Linked DNA regions of Homo sapiens. The protein of the gene in region 4 purifies or fractionates together with the protein of the main gene of each other region. This does not show direct contact. Each region holds a gene or a part of one and is shown on either strand. Other genes may lie near its edges.

Region 1 (3,500 bases), on a different chromosome or scaffold from region 4:
TTAATCAGTTAACAATATTTAATATGAGAGAAACATAAAACAGTGCAACTAAGCAATTTTAAAATCATCTACATTGACCTTTGTGTTGAATATATCAATTTGAAAAGAAAATGGTTAAGATTTTCCAGTAAAGCTTTTGGTTTTATAGTTATGCTTAGTTGGAGCTTAAAGATAGTATTAAAACATTATTCTTTTCTTCTTTCAAACAAAAAGAAACCCGTTGGGGACATGTTTAATGTATTTTTAAAAAATACATATTATCTAATGTAACATATTTAAAAAGAACAAAGCAGGGGAAAAATCTTCATCTGGCAACTATGCATTAACATCATACAATAATGTCGACTTTACGGAGTTCAGGCTCCATTTTACTTAAAGTTCTAGGAAGATTTGTCAAGGTTAAGTTTTTGCTGTCTCCAGTTCCCACCTGCCCTGGATAATACGAATGACAGGCTTGGTTTTTTACAGAGAATACTTATTTGATTGTCATGTAAATATATATTACCCCTAGTGAGGGTTATGCAGAGACAGATGAACTTCCTGGTCCAAACAGATAGTAATTTTTATCTTCAAAGGAAACCAAAAAGAGTATCCTTGGCAAATGTGCAATGAATAAAGTCTTGCTCTGCTCTATACAAGTTAATGCTCTCTAAACATCAAACATCTCCACATCTCCATGCCTGAAGTGAAGCTGTCAAAGACACACAGAATTTACAATTGTGAGAGATTCTTTGGTATGTAAATGAGCTGTTTCCTCATAAACTGCAGACTCTATCTCACTTACAATGTACTTTAAATATTACATTTAAATATATGTGGTTTAGATATTTTCTAATTTGTTATCTGTGCCAGAAGCTAGGGCATGTGGTTTTCACCCAAACAAGTTAAAGACATGATATTTTGACCTATAAGAACAAAGATAATTTAAATGGAGCAACCTGTTCTTTATAGGGGAAACTTGGTTTCATTTAGACAGCATGAAGCTGGAACTCATTGTGACAAACCAGTTTTATCTTTGCTACGCATTTGCTGCATCATTCTCCCCTCCCTGACACAGGTTACTGAAGTGTTGAGAAAAACAAAAGAAGGAAAAACTCTTAGTATTTCAAACTTAGTTTTAATATGGTCTAGGGCATTAGTGAGCTCGTGGATGTGAGAGATTCAGTTTCCATTTATACAGACGTTCAAAATACATATTTAGCAAACTTTCCTTGGAAAATTGTCTGTTGCCTTTGAAAATAAAATTATCATGTGATTAGGGGAATTTTCTGTTTGAGGAAGACATTTAATATAATGTCAAGACAAAAATAAGAGATATGAAGTGGCACTTCTCTGACATTCACTGCTGGAGCTATTATTTTTGCCCATGGTTATTCTGATTTAACCTATATATTATTGACTAGGGGAAAAAGCGTACTGTAAAATCTGAAAGTTACTACAGTATAGTAAAATGCCAAGTTTGTGAATTTAAATCTGCAGAAATATTAGGCATTGCATTTAGAAAAAGGCAAGTTACCTCCATCTGAAATATAACAAAATTTTAGATTCTATGGTATTAATTATCATCCTAGATGTAGATTTATGAAGCAGTATGTCATGCCAGAGGTTTGGTTTTATTCAATATTTTAATACCTATTACGTACCAAATTGAATGCCTGACAATGTGGACACAAAAATGAATGATAAAAGGTCCCTGCTACATTGCAAAACAAAAAGAAAAGAGCAAAAAATAACAGTGAGAATAAAGACTGGACAGATTATAAAACATTTGATTCCAATTTGAATTGCAGCCATGTCTCTTTTTATTGCACTTTGCTTTATTGCATGCCACAGATATTGCATTTTTCAAAGAAAATGAATAAAGCTATCACCACCATTTTTCCAACAGCATGCGTTCATTTCCTGTCTCTGTGTCACATTTTGGTAATTCTCACAGTATTTCAAATGTTTTCGTTATTGGTATGTCTGTTTCGGTGATCTGTGACCATTGTTCTTTGATATCAATATTGTAATTGTTTTAGGTCACCACAAGCTGCCCCTATATAAGATGGTGAATTTCATCAATAAATATGTGTGTTCTGACTGCTCCAACAACTAGACATTCCCACTATCTCTCCTTCTCCTCAGGCTTTTCTGTTCCCCGAGACACAACAATATTGAGATTAGGAAAATTAATAACCTACAACAGCCTCTAAGAATTCAAGTGAAAGGAAGAGTTGCATATCTTTACTTTCAATCAAAAGCTGAAAATAATTAAGCTTACTGAGGAAGGCATGCCAAAAGCCAAGATAGGCTGAAAGCTAGGCCTCTTGCACCAAACAGCCAAGTTGTGAATGCAAAGGAAAAGTTCTTGAAGGAAATTAAAAGTGCTACTGAACACATGAATGATAAGAAAGTGAAACAAACTTATTGCTGATGTGGAGAAAGTTTTAGTGGTCTGGATAGAAGATCCAACCAGCCAGAATTCTCTTTCAGCCAAAGCCTAATCCAGACCAAGGCCCTAAATCTCTTCAATTCTGTGAAGATGTGGAGAGGTAAGGAAGCTGCAGAAGAAAAGTTGGAAGCTAGCAGAGGTTGGTTCATGAGGTTTAAGAAAAGAAGCCATCTCCACAACATAAAAGTGCAAGGTGGAAGCAGCAAGGATTGATGTAGAAGCTGCAGCAAGTTATCCAGAAGATCTAGCTAAGATCATTGATGAAGGTGGCTACGCTAAACAACACATTTTCAATGTAGACTAAACAGTCCTCTATTAGAAGAAGATGCCATCCAGGACTTTCAGAGCTAGATAGGAGAAGTCAATGCCTGGCTCCAAAGCTTCAAAGTTTAGGCTGACTCTTGTTAGGGAATAATGCAGCTGGTGACTTCAAGTTGAAGCCAATGCTGGTTTACCATTATGACAATTCCAGGGCTCTAAAGAATTACAATAAATTTACTTTGCCTGTGCTCTATCAATGAGATAATAAAGCCTGCATGACAGCACATCTGTTTACAACATAGTTTACTGAATATTTTAAGCCCACTGTTGAGATTTACTACTCAAAAAAAAAATTCTTCCAAAGTATTTCTGCTTATTGACAATGCACCTGGTCACCCAAGAGCTCTGATGGTGATATACAAAAAGATTAATGTTGTTTTCGTGCCTAACAGAAGATCATTTTTGCAGCTCATGGCTCAAGAAGTAATTTTGATTTTCAAGACATTTTTTAAGAAATACATTTTGTGGGCCAGGCTCGGTGGCTCATGCCTATAATCCCAGCAATTTGGAGGCCAAGGTGGGTGGATCACCTGAGGTCAGGAGTTCAAGACCAGCCTGGCCAATGTGGTGAAACCCTGCCTGTACTAAAAATACAAAAAATCAGCTGGGCGTGGTGGCAGGCACCTGTAATCCCAGTTACTTGGGAGGCTGAGGCAGGAGAATTACTTGAACCCGGGTGGTGGAGGCTGCAGTGAGCCGAGATCGTGCCACTGCACTCCAGCCTGGGGAACAAGAGCAAAACTCT
Region 2 (3,500 bases), on a different chromosome or scaffold from region 4:
ACAGTCTCTGCAGCAACACTTCGATGAGCTGAAGAGTCAACAACTTCTGGTTACAGTGTTCTTCCAAAATTTTTCAGCAAAAAGACCCCAAAATAGAAATCCTTCACCTATTGAGGATCCCCAACCATCAACATTGTCTGCTCCTTAACCATCAACATTACCTTGGCTCAGTGATCCAGGATTACCCGAAGTTATTTTGATGATAATGTAGCCTAACTACATCACTTATACCTACATCAGTCACCTCATTTCATCTCTTCATGTAGGCATTGTATGACATCTCACAGCCTCACAAGGGTGAGTACAAGATATTTTGAGAGAGAGAAACCACATTTGCATAACTTTTATTACAATATATTGTTGTAATTGTTCCATTTTGTTAGCTATTGTTAATCTCTTAATGTGCCTAATTACAAATTAAACTTGATCGTAATTATGCATGCATAGGAAAAAACAGGCCGGACATGGTGGCTCACGCCTGTAATCTCAGCACTTGGGAAGTTGAGGCGGGCACATCACTTGAGCTTAGGAGTTCGAGACCAGCCTGGGCAACATGGCGAAATTAATTAGTCAGAAATATGTATATACCAACATACTAATATGTTTCAGCTATAAATACTTCTAACATTTCACATGTATATTTATGTAATCACCACAATCAAACTACAGAACTTTTCCACCACAAGGCTCCCTTTATAGCCACATTCTCCTTCCCTTCAGTCCCAAGACCTGGCAACCACGAATCTTGTTTCCCATCTCTATAGCTTTATTATTTAAGAATGTTACAAAAACAGAATCATACAGTGTGTAAAACTTTAGGATTGTCCCCCCAAACCACCCAAGCATAATTCCCTTGAGGTCCATGCAATTTGTTACATGTATCAGTAGTTTGTTCCTTCATATTACTATTTAGTATTCCATGGTGTGGACATACTAAACCATTCACTCTTTTTGAAGGACATCCAGGTTGTTTCCGGGTTTTGGCTATTATAAATGAAGGTGCTATGTAACATTTGTGAATGTTAAGTTTTAACTTCTCAGGGATAACTGTCAAGTAGTACAAATGCCAGTTATATGTTAAATGTATGTTTAGTTTTATAAGAAACTGCCAAGAATATTTTCCACAGTGGCTCTACTATTTCATATCTCACCAGCAACGTATGAGTGGTCCACTTATCCAATTTCTCTTGCATCCTAGCAAAACAACTCTAAAATTTATCATTTGGAACTGTCTTTTCTTTCTGCAATGGTATTACGTGTCCTTTTAGAATTGAAATCAAGGGTAGAAAGGTTAGATTTAGTCCAGCCTCCCATTTCATATTAGCTGTAGTAACAATCCCCTTTACAACATTTGATCATTATTGCCACTTAACACTTCCAGGATTAGGGAGTAGTATCTTTCTTTCTGAGGGAGTTTATATCAGTTTGGGTAACAGATTCTCATTGTTCATTTTACTGCTTTCCTATTTCTTCCTCATCTTCCATAAAAGGCACAATAATAAATCTAAGCTTGTTAAAACAGAAACAAAAACAACACAAGTACTAAAACGAGGGTTTTTGTTTGTAAAACTGTCAATTAGGATTTTAATTCATGGTCAGTGAAGACCTTCAGGATTTTCCCTGCCCTGCATTTTCTTGCCTTTTTCTTTCAGATGCAGGGATCCAGAGTCCATCTCCATTGTGCCCTGTCTTATGTAACATCATCCTAGCTCTAGATTCTTTAATTGGTGTCCTTTCCCCAGACGTACATTAGGTGTATGGCTCCAGGTTATGACAACAGCCTTCCAGAAGCCTTAGACACCTGAAAGTGATAGCAGTGCAGAAGCAGAAAGGTGCCTAAGGATTTCTACCAGCTTGTGGTAGAAGAGTGGCTTGTCTGGATGGTTTGAGGGAAATGACCAAATAATAACCTACCTACACCAAGCATTGTACTTTTCCTATATGCTAACAAGTTTTAAGATGTTTCTGAACAAGTTTTAAAATATTTCTGAAAATGAAATAGTCTCAAAGGAGTTTTGATTTTGCAAGATCACTTAGCAAATGATCCAAGGATAACTGACAGGATTCTATATTGTGTTGGTTGAAAATTAAGAATCCTGAGCCATATTCCAGACCTGAATAATCAATTTCTGGGGTGAGGTGGAGCAGGTAAGTTCCCTGGGTGCTTATTTAGCATACCAAACTTTAAGAACTGATTATCTTTCCTTTCATATATTTTGAGCAAAAACTGTACCTTTTAGGAACAGTGCATGTTTAGGCAACAGGTGAATAAGTACATATAGAAACAGAACTCCAATGCAAAGTAGAGTGATGTACAATAAGAGGTGTAGAGAGCTATGGGGTTTCAAAACAGGAGGAGAGAGCACATTATTAACTAAATAGAGATGAAGGAAGGCTTTCAGGAGTAGACAGCATTTACAAATGACTGGCAGTTAATTTTCTTTGATAATTTTTATTATATACATATCAGTACTCACAATACGTTGCTTATTTAAGATGGCTGTTTATAAGTATAAAGCAGTTTGAGCAACACTGATTGTGCATTATTGTACTTCAGATGAAAAATCCTTACATGTGGAATCAATGTCTTTTAAAATTTCAGATAAAGAATTTTCATTTGAGGAGACATACAATTGTAAGTGCTCATTTTTTGTCAATTTTAAGACACCATTATGTGTAAGAAGGATTAATTTTACCATAAAATTACAAACACCCTCCATGTCTTGACATTCACATGAAAGAACAGCATAACATTAATCATCCAAATGCATATCAGAGCAAACTCTAGGCCTTAGTGTGAGGTGAACACGGTAACTGCTACATTATGGAAATCGGTTGGGCCTTAGTTAAATATTGTAGTATTTTTAAAATTTGTATATTGAAAAAGACAAAATGAGCTGTTAAGTGATAAACAGCTTACTCAATTTAGCATAACTTTAATTTAGAAATGGAATAGTGAAATTAAAAAAAGCATATGAAGCAGATAAACAGTATGTCTTTAGAAATATTAAAGATTTTTACTCTGTTTACAAGTTTTGCTTTTTTGGTTATGCCTCTTAAATATCTGTCTTTTTACTTTGTCTATAAAAATAATTGTCCTTAGTATTCCTAAATTCTTTTCCAAATAAAGCAATTATCGTTTTTATATGGTAAGAAGTTACTGAATCATAGGTTTAAGATCAGTGGCACAAATCATACATGTAGAAGATTATGTAACAAATTCATTGTTAGGTAAGGAGTCAGAGAGTACAGTACAGTAACAGCCATACAGGAGAGGTAGAATTCTTAATCACAGTTTTATAGAAAAGATGCAGTAGTTTATATCTGTACCCTGCTTTATTAGTTATGGTACTGTAAATTTGCTTCTCATTGCAAATTTAACAGCGCAAAAGGGAGGGGTATTCATAGGCAAGGATCTTATTGACCTTTGTTCTGCAAGTGTTGCAGAGGATACCCCTAGACACCTGAAGCATTTTCTTGGCCAATTAAGGTAATTGATC
Region 3 (3,500 bases), on a different chromosome or scaffold from region 4:
ATGGTCTTTCTCGCCCAAGAGAGCCTGGGATCCAATTCCACGTGATGTCCCAGCACCCCTGGAGAGTCAGAGCTCTTCTTTGCGCTAAACCAGCTCAGGTGTTGGGGCTGGTGCAGGCACATGCCGTGTAGAAGAAGACAGACAAAGACCCAGCCTGCTCACCACCCACACAGCAGGGAGGGGGCTCAGCGGCTGACACCCCTGTAGGTTCCTGGGGTCCACACCTGCATCTGCTGCTTGGTCTCCAAACGGTCTCATGGGTCAGGCCAGTTGCCTGCTTCCTGGACTCCAGATGGACTTGCCATGGCTGAGGCTCTCCATGGGGTAAAAGGACGCGGAGAATGGGCAGGAGGTGGGGAACTCCCGAATCAAGCTGCACCCTTGTGTTGGGATGGGCTGGACCCCATCTCACGGAGCCTCCTTTCCGCACCTGGGCCTCCCGTGGTCCTTGTCCTGAGTCAGGGAAGCCTGAGTGTGTTCCAGGGGCCTGATGGGACCTCCTTCTCTATCAGGGACTCACAGAAGCAGAATAGGGGTGGGGTCCCACCAAGCCAGGCCAGAACAAATGTGCCAAAAATCACCTTGGTCAGCAACAGGGTGGGGTGTGTGTGTGGGGGGAAGTGGGCACGGAGAGTAGCTGACTTGCAGGAGCCCCAGGCGCTCCTCTGAAAGAAGAATTCCAACCACAGCAACCACAGTGCCCCTGAGTGAAATAAACAGAAATTTCGGCGTGCACCGGGCTACGGAGACCAGAACCCCTGGAGGAGAATGGAGAAGGCCAGAACCACAACTAAGGGACGATGTCAGCAGGGAGAAGAGCTGGGAATGGGGCTCGCAGTTCGCCCACGGAGGATATCCAGAAACCGAGTCGGGTAGGCGGTGGGGCTGGTTGAATATCCACCCTCGGGTATGGACAGGTGTGAGGAGTGTCTAAGGAGCTCGGGGGTGACAGCCCAGCTCTACTAAAAAAAATACAAAAATTAGCCGGGCGTGGTGACACAAGCTGTCCCCTGACACAGAGAGGCAGAGGCACCCTCTGCAGGATAACAAGCACCCTGTGCGCTGCTGGGCTTTGCTTGTTTCTCTACCCTGAGTGAAGCCTGGAGACCCTTCCTCACCGGTGCCTCTGCAGTGCCTGGGAGGAATAAAGCCTGGAGACCCTTCCCCACCGGGCCTCTGCAGTGCCTGGGAGCAACGCAGCTGTTCTCCCTGAACCTCTGGCACCGTGGCCTCTCCATGCGCCCCTGGATCTCCAAGCTGCGCCCCCGGCTCTCCAAGCTGCGCCCCCGGGACTCAGAACACACTCTCCTGCCTCTGGAGGCCGGGCCTGGTGGCTCCCTCCATCCCTTCAGGGTGCGCACCGGCCTCGGAGCGCACGGACGTGGTCCTGGCGGAGAAGAGGCTCTCGCGGCGCGTGTCCAGGGTGTCTCTGGGCACCCGGCGGCAGCCCAAATATTCCCGCAGGCGCAGCTGGAATTCCCGGGACGCAAAGTAATAAACAAACGGGTCCAGACAGTTGTTGAGGCAGCTGAGACACAGCGTGAGCTTGTACACGTGGTAGTAGCTCTTGCCGTAGAACAGGCGGCTCACGATGTGCGCCAGGAGCACGAAGTTGTTGGGGGCGAAGCAGGTGACAAAGGCCAGCAAGACCACCGCGGCCAGGCCCACCGCGCGCCTCCGCTGCTCCCGGCCGTGCGCCTCCTCCGTGCGCAACAGCTTGAGGATGGTGGCCGTGTAACAAGCCACGGTGATCACGAACGGGATGAGGAACAGCAGGATGAAGATGGTGAAGAGGAACACGGCCCACATGGCCACGCTGGGGAGCATCGTCCACTTGAGGACGTCGAAGCAGGTGATGATGCCCAGGGCGTGCACCGGGTAGGTGAGATCGGTGCGCGCCAGCGGGGACAGGGCGGTCAGGAGCAGCAGCCAGGTCCCTGCACACGCGGCCACCGCGTAACGACGGCGGCGCCAGCGCTTGGAGCTGAGCGGGTACAGGACCCCCAGGAAGCGCTCCACGCTGATACAGGTCATGGTGAGGATGCTGGAATACATGTTTGCGTAAAAGGCCACGGTCACCACGTTGCAAAGCAGCACCCCGAATACCCAGTGGTGGCGGTTGCAATGGTAGTAGATTTGGAAAGGCAACACGCTGGCCAGCATCAGGTCCGTGACGCTCAGGTTGATCATGAAGATGACCGACGGGGATCTGGGCCCCATGCGCCGGCACAGCACCCACAGAGAGAAGAGGTTGCCCGGGATGCTGACCGCCGCCACCAGCGAGTACACCACGGGCAGGGCCACCGCGATCGCCGGGTTCCGCAGCATCTGCAGCGTCGCGTTGTCCGGGCCGGTGCTGTTCGGGACCTGCATCCTGGAGGGGTCCTCGCCCGGGCTCTGCAAGGGAAGGAGGGAAGGGTGTACGGGTCAGGGGCGCAGGTAAAGAGGCGGCTGCCGGGAGGGCTCCTGAGCGCCGCTCCCCGGGGACCAAGGCGGGGGAGATGCTTTAGCAGGGCCTGCTGTCTCCTCCCTCCCTCCCTCCCTTAGTTCCTCCTTCCCTCTCCTCCTTCCTTCCCTCCCTCTCTGCCTCCTTTCTTCACCCTGTGTCATTCTTTTCTTCTTTCCTGTCTTCTCCCCTTTCTTCTTCCTTCCTCCTCTCTCCTTCCTTCTCTTCTTCCCTCCTTCCTTCCTTCCTTCCTTCCTTCCCGCCCTCCCTCCCTCCCGTCCTTCCTTGGATCAGGGAGGTCATTGGAGACCTCGGCCCACGTCAGAGGCTGAGACTCTTAGATGATCCACAGTGGGGCTGTGGCTCCCCTGGGCAGGTTGAATGCATTGTCATACAAACCTCAAGACTCAGTGTCCCCCGTGGACGGAAACCACAAAGCCACCGTCAGCCCCCAGGGTGGTCTTAATGGGAATTCTTGACACCCTGGCAGTATTAGTCTGGGTATGAGTCCTCTCATCTCAGGGGCATCCACCCACAAAGTGTCTATCAGCAGAAAACACACACTCCGAGTGCCAGGAGACCAACCCGCAGCCTCCAAAGTCTTTCCAGCTTTTAACACCCGCGTCAACCCACGGCTCCTCCCTGCTCTTTCTTCCTCCAGAGGAGACCTGCGACTTCTTACCAACTGCTCTACAAACAGCTTCCTCAAGCTGGCTTTAAAATGGCCCGGAGTTTTCGTTTCAGTTTCAGGGAGAAGTTTTCTGACCCGCCGGTCCGTGCCCAGGTGTGAAACCTACAGTTATGCACGAGTCAGCACCGCTCCCCACGGCCAGCTGGGCACCTCCAGCCACCTATGGCTTCAGGAGGAAAAGCAGACCCTTCCTTCTTTGGGTTCCGCTTGGTGTGGCCGTGGGGGACGTCTGGAAGGAGAGACGCTTTATCCATGAGCTGGTGATGAAAAAGTGTCTGTCAAAGGGACACTACTTTTATTTTGAGAATGTAAAGTGGACAGAGCTGGAAACAGGGGTGCCCTGGAATTGTTCTTTTGTTTGTT
Region 4 (3,500 bases):
GGCCCACTGTCCTCCTGCCTGGCCAGCTTCTCAGCCACCAGGACTCGTGGGCCTCCACAGCTGGCCACCCCCAGGGAACCTTCTAGGACCATGGGCGGTGGGGGATGTGGATGTGCGTGGAGCCCCTTCCACGTGGGTAGCCACAGGAGCAGCACCCAAGGCCAGAGATAGACACGCCTGGGTGAAGGTCAAAGGCCTCGAGCCACATCAGCCCTGAGTTGGGGAGGCTGGGCCCAGATAGCCCTTGTCCCCGACCTGCCCTGCAGGTGCCCCTTTGAGCCCTAGACTCCAACTACTTCTGGGGTGGGGCTGGCAGCCCCACCCCACGAAGTGCCAGTGGGAACCAGGCCCAGAGGTAGCAGGCCTTGGACGTGGCACAGGGCTCCATCTAATCACCTTCCTGGGGGGCTCCTAGGACCCACAGCTGAGGGAAGGGGCCAGGAGGACTGCAGAGTGGTGGCCAGGCCTGCAGGGCTCCATACCCACAGAGGCCATGTGGCGTAGCACAGGAAGCTCTTCTCACATCCCCTGCCAGAGAGGCCTTGTGTCCACAGAGCATGCAGTCCACTCTCCCACCAGCCCAGGGCAAGACCCCCTCCACCCTGCCCTCCCTGGAGGCCCTGCACCCCTCAGGCCCAGCTCACAACACACAGGCTCCAGCCAGGCACTGTTCGGCCTCCCCACGCCCACACCACATCTGCAGGGCTCTCCTGGGATCCAATGGGAAGCAGCAAGTATGTGGTGCATGGGCACCCAAGTGACCACAGCAGGGGCAGCCACTGCCACTCCCCTCCCCAACAGTCCAGTGCTGGCAGCCACATGGAGGTGCAGCCTGCTCCACACACCCCAGCCCACAGGGGCTCCAGCCTGGACACCCTGGGTGACAGAGCCTGTTCTCAGGCAAAGGCCAGCCTGGGACAGAGCCCCACCTGGACCTAGACCCGCTCCCGACACCATGTCCCACTCACCAGCATCACCACACACCAGTTCAGGATGCCACGGTAGTTGCTGAAGCCACTGTCAGAGCTGAATAAAGAATCCTGCAGGCGATGGCACCTGACAGAGCACAACACAAGCACCCCCTGAGTGGGCACCAGCAGGGCAGCGCCACCCCCGCAGGATCCAGGCCCCCACCCCAGTGTCCTCGTCTGCCCTCAGGCCCCACTCCTTATTTACAACCAGGAGGAGAAGCCAGGCAGAGCCACACTGTGGCCTCAAGACCTACAGTGGGCAAAGCTCTCCGGACCCCCAGAGCCTGCACCTCCAGGCAGCGGGACGAGCATGTCAGGGTCAGAAGCAAGCCCAGCTGGCCCTGCCCGGACTGGACCTACATGGAGCTTGGACACTCCAGGCCTCACTCTCCAGAGGCCTCTGGCCACTGCCATGTACTCTGGCTGTGGACTAGCACTGGGGCCACAAGCAGGGTCCAACCTGGGGATGGACCAGGGGGCACTGCCCAGCACTGTGGGGACCAAGTGGTGAGGGTTGAGTCCACCCTATTCAGTTGGCCCATCCCAGCACCCGGGAGCTAAGGGGTCCCCACACTTGGACGTGCAGGCTCAAACTGGCAAAGGCAGGCCAGGCGCCAGCCACACACCAGCCTGACATGCACTTTCCCAGAGGCAGGGATCCAGCCCTCGTGTGCCGGTGTAGCCTCCACTTGTTTGTGATGTGTGCCCAGGCTGAGGGGGCTGAAAGGAACCCACCCGGGGCTAGGTGCCTGCTGGCTGAGAGGCTTCCAACAGAGGCAGGCACCCACCCATGATCTCCCAACCAGCGCTGGAGGGGCACAGGCAGACCCTGCCTGGTCCTCAGCATACTGCACAGGTGGAAGAGGGCACCCAGCCCAATAGAGGGACTGCCATATAGCTAGGACAAGGACAGCAAGAGCTTGGCCAGGCCCCCACACGTCCTAGGAAGCAGTGCTGGCTCATATACACTAGCTGCAGGCCCGCCTCACCCCCCATCTGCCGTGCCACTGGGACACCACACACAGCATTGAGCAAGTCCTCAACTTTGTAAGAGGAGAGGCCAGAGCCTCCCTTTCCCTCCCGCACACGCACATCTGCCCCTCAGAGCCCCTAGGCAGGGAGAGTGGGCCTGAGAGCCATGGCAGGAGCCCCATGAGGCAGACGCCCTCAGGGCACCCAAGGCAAGCTGGCTAGGATTGGGGTCGGCAGTCAGACGGCCCTGCCCAGGAGGCAAAGGGCCAGGGAGGCCGAGAGGCAATGCCAACAAGCCCAACCTTTGCTCCCCAAGACCAAGGTTGGTGCAACACATGCCCCATCTACACCTACACAGTTCCTGGACAAGTCTACACTAGTCCCCAAGACCCCCAGGCAGGGAGGATGCTCACACCTTTCCCTCTGCCCATCTAGACTGGAACACAGGGGCAGGCAGCTCCACCCAGCCCCTGCCTCTCCCAGCTCCAGCCTGAGCGCCCTGCATCCACCCACCAGGTCCATCCTGGGCCATGCAGTGAGGCTGTGGTCTCCACCAGAGCCTCCCTCCTCCCCAAGTTGGCAGCTGTCTTCCCAACTGACCACCGCCCTTGGCTCATCTCCCCAGCCTACTCCACTCACTGCCTGCCCACAACCAGGAGGCTGGGTGTAGACACCGCCAGAGCCCCAGCACCGTGACGGGAGCAGGGGCACGAGGCCCAACTGCCCAGCAGCCTCTCTGGGCTGTCTGTCTGGGGGCCTCTCCACTGCCCCCTCTTCCCCAAGTTCGAGCCCATTTGTTTTCAGCAGAACAATCCCAAGCCTCAGGGTTGGCCTTCTTGTACCACGACCTACCAACCACAGCTGTTTCACAGCAGTATGACCCCTGCCCCCTTTGAGCCACCAAGGACACCATGCTGGCTTTATCCATGCCCATCTCCAAGATGAAAACAGGAGTCGGGAAAGGGTGGTGCTTCCCAAAGCTCACTGCAGACAATCCTACACAAGCTTTCTCAGGGGCCCCTTGACAGGCTTCCAAGGCCTTCCTCAACCCAGCCACAGCCTCACCTCAGGCCCTTCACAGGCCTGACCAGCCCCACCCAGAGGCAGCACCCCCACTGCGCTACCCCTACCCCTCACAGGCCCCCATGAGGAGGAAGCCCCAGTCCACCAGTGCCCACAGAGCTCCAAGCAGTCAGTGCGGCCAGCAGCATGTGGGCTACAGGGCAGGCTGCATGGAACGGCATGGGGAGGTGGGATCTGCCCCTGTGCCTAGAGCACCTTTATCACCCTCTCACTGACTGGAGGATCTGCCCAAGCCTCTGCACCTTCCAGCTGTCCCTACACCCACTCCCTAGTCCAAGAAGACTCGGAGCAGCCTGCCCTCCCTCCTGCAGCCCCCAGGCCCACCCAGCCAGCAGGATCCTCTCAGTCTCACGGCAACACTGAGACCTTGGCACATGCCCACCCGCCACCCTGTCTCCAGGTTCAAAGTGTGCCCAAAGGCACAGGTCCCAGTGAGTCCCACACTTGGGGCCCACACAGTGCAGCTCCAGGGCC

Evidence for each region. The genes of interacting proteins can lie anywhere in the genome.
Region 1: the proteins of DGAT1 (region 4) and TRDN purify together in Homo sapiens (co-immunoprecipitation; one large-scale study listed by IntAct). This does not show direct contact.
Region 2: the proteins of DGAT1 (region 4) and TMED5 purify together in Homo sapiens (co-immunoprecipitation; one large-scale study listed by IntAct). This does not show direct contact.
Region 3: the proteins of DGAT1 (region 4) and P2RY8 purify together in Homo sapiens (co-immunoprecipitation; one large-scale study listed by IntAct). This does not show direct contact.

What each region holds. Positions count from the first base shown.
Region 1 is NC_000006.12:123,626,951-123,630,450, reverse strand, and holds part of TRDN (triadin), read left to right. Parts: intron 1-3,500. UniProt on the Homo sapiens protein: Contributes to the regulation of lumenal Ca2+ release via the sarcoplasmic reticulum calcium release channels RYR1 and RYR2, a key step in triggering skeletal and heart muscle contraction.
Region 2 is NC_000001.11:93,149,414-93,152,913, forward strand, and holds the end of TMED5 (transmembrane emp24 domain-containing protein 5 isoform 1 precursor), read right to left. Parts: 3' UTR 329-3,500; downstream 1-328. UniProt on the Homo sapiens protein: Potential role in vesicular protein trafficking, mainly in the early secretory pathway. Required for the maintenance of the Golgi apparatus; involved in protein exchange between Golgi stacks during assembly.
Region 3 is NC_000023.11:1,464,186-1,467,685, forward strand, and holds part of P2RY8 (S-geranylgeranyl-glutathione receptor P2RY8), read right to left. Parts: intron 3,034-3,500; exon of another isoform or gene 2,846-3,033; intron 2,398-2,845; 5' UTR 2,374-2,397; coding exon 1,294-2,373; 3' UTR 1-1,293. UniProt on the Homo sapiens protein: G protein-coupled receptor for S-geranylgeranyl-glutathione (GGG), an endogenous metabolite present in lymphoid tissues.
Region 4 is NC_000008.11:144,320,353-144,323,852, forward strand, and holds part of DGAT1 (diacylglycerol O-acyltransferase 1), read right to left. Parts: intron 1,057-3,500; coding exon 969-1,056; intron 1-968. UniProt on the Homo sapiens protein: Catalyzes the terminal and only committed step in triacylglycerol synthesis by using diacylglycerol and fatty acyl CoA as substrates. Highly expressed in epithelial cells of the small intestine and its activity is essential for the absorption of dietary fats.